2 separate regions of the Homo sapiens genome follow, and region 2 is linked to region 1. A link means that fine-mapping ties the variant in region 1 to the expression of a gene that starts in the linked region. Tissue or cell type: whole blood. Region 1 holds a variant in brackets; the other region holds the start of a gene. All regions are shown on one strand. Distances are from middle to middle.

Region 1 (2,686 bases):
TAAGGGGGTCCAGATCATCCTAGGAGCGGAATCTTGAGCTATTAGAAACTATATTAGTAGGCTGGGCGCAGTGTCTCACGCCTGTAATCCCAGCACTTTGGGAGGCCGAAGCGGGCAGATCACGAGGTCAAGAGATCGAGACCATCCTGGCCAACATGGTGAGACCCTGTCTCTACTAAAAATACAAAAAGTAGCCGGGCATGGTGGTGCACACCCATAGTCCCAGCTACTCAGGAGGCTGAGGCAGGAGAATCACTTGAACTCTGGAGGTGAAGGTTGCAGTGAGCCGAGATTGTGCCACTGCACTCCAGCCTGGATGACAGAGCGAGACTCCTCCATTTAAAAAAAAAAACAAAAAAAAAACAAACCTATTGTAGTTCTGTTCACATCTATACAGACATGTCTTGTGTCTTTATAGAGGGAAGGTTGAGGTTCAGGAGAGCACCTGGCTACAGAGTCTTTGTCACTGATCCCCTCAACAACCCTGAGAGGCCCATGGGACAGTGAAGAAATGAGGAAGTCTGAAATGCCTCTCAGACTTGCGAGAGCACTTGTAGCTTGCCTGGACTGGCCCTGCCCATCCAGTCTCTGCCCTGGGCTCCCCTCACCCACCACGCTGCTTGCTTCAGACCCACACCTGCCGGGACAACCTGGAACTGCCTCGCAGCATTTTGCATCCAAAGAAGAGACAGGGTGAAATACCTCTGTGTCCCCAAGGCTAGATCGATACATGTTTAGACATCAATTAGCAAGGCGGGGATATAGAATGACCTTCAGAAGGGCAGCACAAATCGATGAAATCCAGGGTCAGGCCCCAAGTCACTGTGTGCACAGCGAGCTGTGGCCTCCGTGCTGGGGCAGCACCTTTCCCACCCCTCCCACCCTGAGCAGGTGGGATCTGTGGGTGAGAACAGCACCCATTCTGAATATGCAGGCACTGGAGGTTGAGACTGGAACCAGGGATCCGGAGGCATTCAGAAGGGGATTCCAATCATGCTTGCTCATAAAGTCACGCACACATCTACCCATTGCCCTCCACGCCATCTATTCAGCATTTAGGGCCCTCAGCCAGCCACGTGTCATGTTAAGTGTTAAGGGGCCATGGACAAACAAGACATGGTCTCTATTTCCAAGGGAAAATAGTATATGTGCTTGTAACCTTCACAGATGGAGAGCAGTGCCACCTGGTTCTAGGAGTGCCAGCCTGCCCCACCCTGGGCCCTGCTGGTTTAACCTCAAACTGTCTTCTCTCTGTATTATGGTTTGTTACTGAAAGTAGCCAGCATCAGAAAGAGAAGTGGTCTCAAAAGAGAAGGATCTGGCATCCCAGTAATGGCTGGTGACTTCTCTGTCAA[C/T]TTCAGTTTCCTCATTTCTAACTGAGGGTTTTGGAGCCCCTGAGTTCTCTGCCAGCTTTGACATTCTGTGGTCTTTCTTATCTATTTTAAACTCTTAGTTCATTTGAGTGAGTCCAGGGCAAAGACAATACTTATTTATCCTTGCATCCTTAGTGCCTAGCACAATCCTGGAATGTGGTAGTAATTCCATACCTGCAAATTGATGGATAAATAAATATGCAATTGAAAAAATAAACACAGACATTGATAAAATATACATAAAGAATTAATACAGATAATGCATTTTTAGTGCTGCATATCTGTGCACGGGAAGTAGAATCACCCCGGACTTCAACAAATATTATCACTTTCCTCAAAAGCCAAGGCTGGTTTATCCTTCCCCTGCGTGCAATCGTTGACATGTTCATTTTCAAATGCAAACTCAGCAATGGCTGTGCTTCACAAAGGCAACCCTGTCTTCTTGGTTCTCCCATAAGACTCAGGAGAAACCAAGCTGTTTCTATGAATTTTAGTTAGAAGCATTGCAGTTCCAGGGTTAAAGTAATTGTTTTTCATGTAACTGCTCCATCAAAAGGCATCTTGCATCAAAGTCGTGATGCAAATTGGTGGACCATGCTCAGGGATCTTCTGAAGAAAGGATTCTGGGAAAGAAAGGAGGGTGTAGATGGAGAACTGGCCCGAGGGCTAAGTCTCAAGTTCAGGCCCCAGCTCTTCTGCTAGCTACGGGATGACTTGGGTAAGGCACGTCACCTCTCTGGGCCTCTGCTCCCACACGTGTCATGCAAAGAGTGTGGACTGTGTCATCTTCAAGTCTCTACCAGCTGGCAAATGCTATGCTTCACCATCATTTGTGATTATTGGAAAAGCCCAAAGATGATGTCATAATTACCGAAAAATCACTCCAAGCACTAAGTAATGGGACATCTGTTGCCGACAACTAAGCTAATGGAAGTTGTTCCTAGTGATATCCTGAGAAAATGCTAAGATTCCTTGTCCAGACCCATGCCTTGATCTTCTCCATGACCTGGCCTCATCTGTGCCTCAGCTGTACCCTCTTTACTGGGGAACAAGCTCAAGCTTTGAGAGATTTGGGGCCTGTAGAAGGAGGGTGGCTGAGGACCATGGGGTTGGTCCCGGTGGGGCCTGGGTGAAGGGCAGGCTCAGTACAACAGGTTGAGGAATGGGGAGGCAGGTGCTGTGGTCTGGGGCTGCAGTGAGGCAGAGAGCTCCAAGCCGAGGCTGGAATTGACACTCCAGAAAAGTTGTGGGGTGAAACAATGAGCCCCTTGATCTGGGAGACAGCAAGGAGGCTACCCAGCCAGGAGCCAGTC
Region 2 (2,686 bases), 100 kb before region 1:
ATGAGCATAATAGCAGCACCTGCCTCAGGGGGTTGTTGAATAGGTTCAATGAGCTAATATATAAGAAACACATGGTATATGCTATAAAGTGTTGTCTTCTTTTCCTTCTCCTCCTCCGCTCCCTGGGATTATTACCATAATGATACAATTATCATTTGTTCTTTCTGTAAAATGGAGTTTGATGTTGGAGCTGCTTCCTAGGCAGTCAGGCAGGGCAGTCACTGAGAATGAGGACGGCGTTTCTGACTCAGCTGTGGGCGGGCAGCTGCAGTGACACAGCTGAGTCTTGGCAAACACTTTTCATGTACGAAGCCTGACCCTGGAGTCTTGAGGCTGAACTTTTCACCAACAAACAGGAATGCATTCATGAATGTTACCTCTGGGTGCTGTCCTCTGGAAGCCATCTGCATAGCCTAACTCTGCCACCCTGGCTTGGACAATTATGGTGATTTCTCTGATGCCCCTGATACTACCACCTCAATCTGAATTTAGCAGCTCCCTTCACATATGGTTAGATTGCCTTTAAAGAGATTTTTTTTTTTTTTAGAGATGGGGTCTCACTATGTTGCCCAGGCTGGTCTTGAACTTGTGGGTGGGCTCAAGCAATCCTCCCACCTCAGCCTCCCAAAGTGCTGGGACCACAGGTGTGAGTCACTGCACCCGGCCTAGATGTCCTTTTTCAAACGTAAGCAATCATGCTCAGGTTTAGGATTATTCGTGCCTGGGTCCCCCTCCCATACTGAATTGCTATGGACAGCCAGCTAGTCTTCATCCTGCACCCCCCAGCCCCTGTGCAGCGTTAATGAGCCAGAAACGCTGATTCTGCTGCTGAGTTCCGTGGAACCCCCTGGGGCATTTTCCTGACTACCCCCAGTGTGGCCAATCCGTGTCCACTGAGGATGAATGTGACTCCAGGAAAATACATGAAGTAACTCTGTGCCAAGCTTGGTGAATGAATTGAGCCATGCCAATTCTGTGCTATAAATAAATTTACAAGACTGGTTTTCTTGCGTGGCTCATAAGCCAGGTCTAGCTGCCACTCCCCCAGAAGTCTTCCAAAAAGTATTTTGAGCAGGACCTTTAGACTGGGGTGTTGGAGTCCCAAGGCCAAGGCCGACCGCGCTGCTCTGGGCCCAGCGGGCGTTCCCACACGGGGCTGTAATGCCACGATTGGCCGCAGGAGGGGGGCCGTATTCCAGACCCCATTGCAGAAGCCTCCGCAACTGCTCCAAGAACTTTATTTTATACGGACTGGCGGCGAGAGCAGCTGCAGTTCGCATCTCAGGCAGTACCTAGAGGAGCTGCCGGTGCCTCCTCAGAACATCTCCTGATCGCTACCCAGGACCAGGCACCAAGGACAGGGAGTCCCAGGCGCACACCCCCCATTCTGGGTCCCCCAGGCCCAGACCCCCACTCTGCCACAGGTTGCATCTTGACCTGGTCCTCCTGCAGAAGTGGCCCCTGTGGTCCTGCTCTGAGACTCGTCCCTGGGCGCCCCTGCAGCCCCTTTCTATGACTCCATCTGGATTTGGCTGGCTGTGGGGACGCGGTCCGAGGGGCGGCCTGGCTCTCAGCGTGGTGGCAGCCAGCTCTCTGGCCACCATGGCAAATGCTGAGATCTGAGGGGACAAGGCTCTACAGCCTCAGCCAGGGGCACTCAGGTGAGTCTTGGTACTAATTTTGTCCTATCTCCTGGGCATGCTGTCTCAAAGACAGCTGGAGGAGACTGGAGTGAACTGGATGGAGAGGAGTACAGAGTTTGGGAAACTTCAGACCTAGAGCCTGGAGGTGCCTTCTCCAGGTGGGAAGGTCCCCGCCTGCTGGGCCCGCAGATATCTGCCGGGCCCTCATCCAACTGCCTGGGCTGGAGAGAATGTGAGCCTGCATTTGGGGTGCCAGAGGGAAGCTATTGCCTTGGTGGCTACTCCACCTGACTCATGTCACAGCTCAAGAGCCTACTCAGGGTGCAGATGGCTCAGGTGACAGCTCCTCTCCATGGCTTCGTGTGTGTGCATGTGTGTGTGTGCATGTGTGTGTGTGCATGTGTGTGTGTGTGCATGTGTGTGTGTGTGCATGTCTGTGCGTGTGCATGTGCCAGTGGTGGGATATATGTGGGGAGAGGTTATTTCTAAAATATCTGTCTCTGTCCAGCTTTGGGTTATGATTTAGCTTAACTAAGTACAGTTAGAGGAGGAAAACATTTAAAACCTCCTTAGTGATTCTCTCTTTGGAGAAGGGCCACACTCATGTGATTTTTTTCCTTGGTTTTGATGAGTTTAAAGTGAGGTAATCCAAAGAAAAGCCATAAACCCTGCAGAGTTAGATGCGGGTACCCAGAGAAACTGACTTGGTAGCAGCAAATGAGGCTCGTGCTACCCACTCAGAGGAGGAATTAATGGAGTCCTTCTGATCTCCAGAGAAGGATTGAAGAGCCAGGGTCCTGATATCAGCCCTAGAGTGCATTCGCGATTGCCTTTTACAAAGGGAACTTCAAACAGCTTTGTTTCTGAGACTGGCTAGGTAGGAGGGAGGCCTTGGGAACCTGGACACCCCCTTACCTGGCTGCCAGGCAGAGTCAGAAGATGCTGGGGGATGCTTTTTCTCATCAGACTGCCACCAGCTCCCCTGAGTGACCTTGTTCATAAAGTCATGCCACATGCATTATCTCACGGGAGGCTCACAGTGA

The links. PIP is the estimated chance that this variant, and not a neighbour inherited with it, causes the effect.
Region 2: SCARA5 starts here. The variant in region 1 is fine-mapped to the expression of SCARA5 in whole blood (TOPMed, PIP above 0.99). The same link has a PIP of 0.9 or more in blood mononuclear cells.

Annotation. Positions count from the first base shown.
Region 1 is chr8:27,888,877-27,891,562 of GRCh38, reverse strand. The region is part of intron 7 of SCARA5 (scavenger receptor class A member 5); the gene reads left to right. Among named protein-coding and RNA genes, the nearest start is that of MIR4287, 4.1 kb to the right of the region's middle. The variant C/T (reference allele first, on the strand shown) is at 1,356.
Region 2 is chr8:27,991,232-27,993,917 of GRCh38, reverse strand. SCARA5 (scavenger receptor class A member 5) reads left to right here and starts at 1,245. Exons shown (of 9, transcript NM_173833.6): 1 at 1,245-1,661.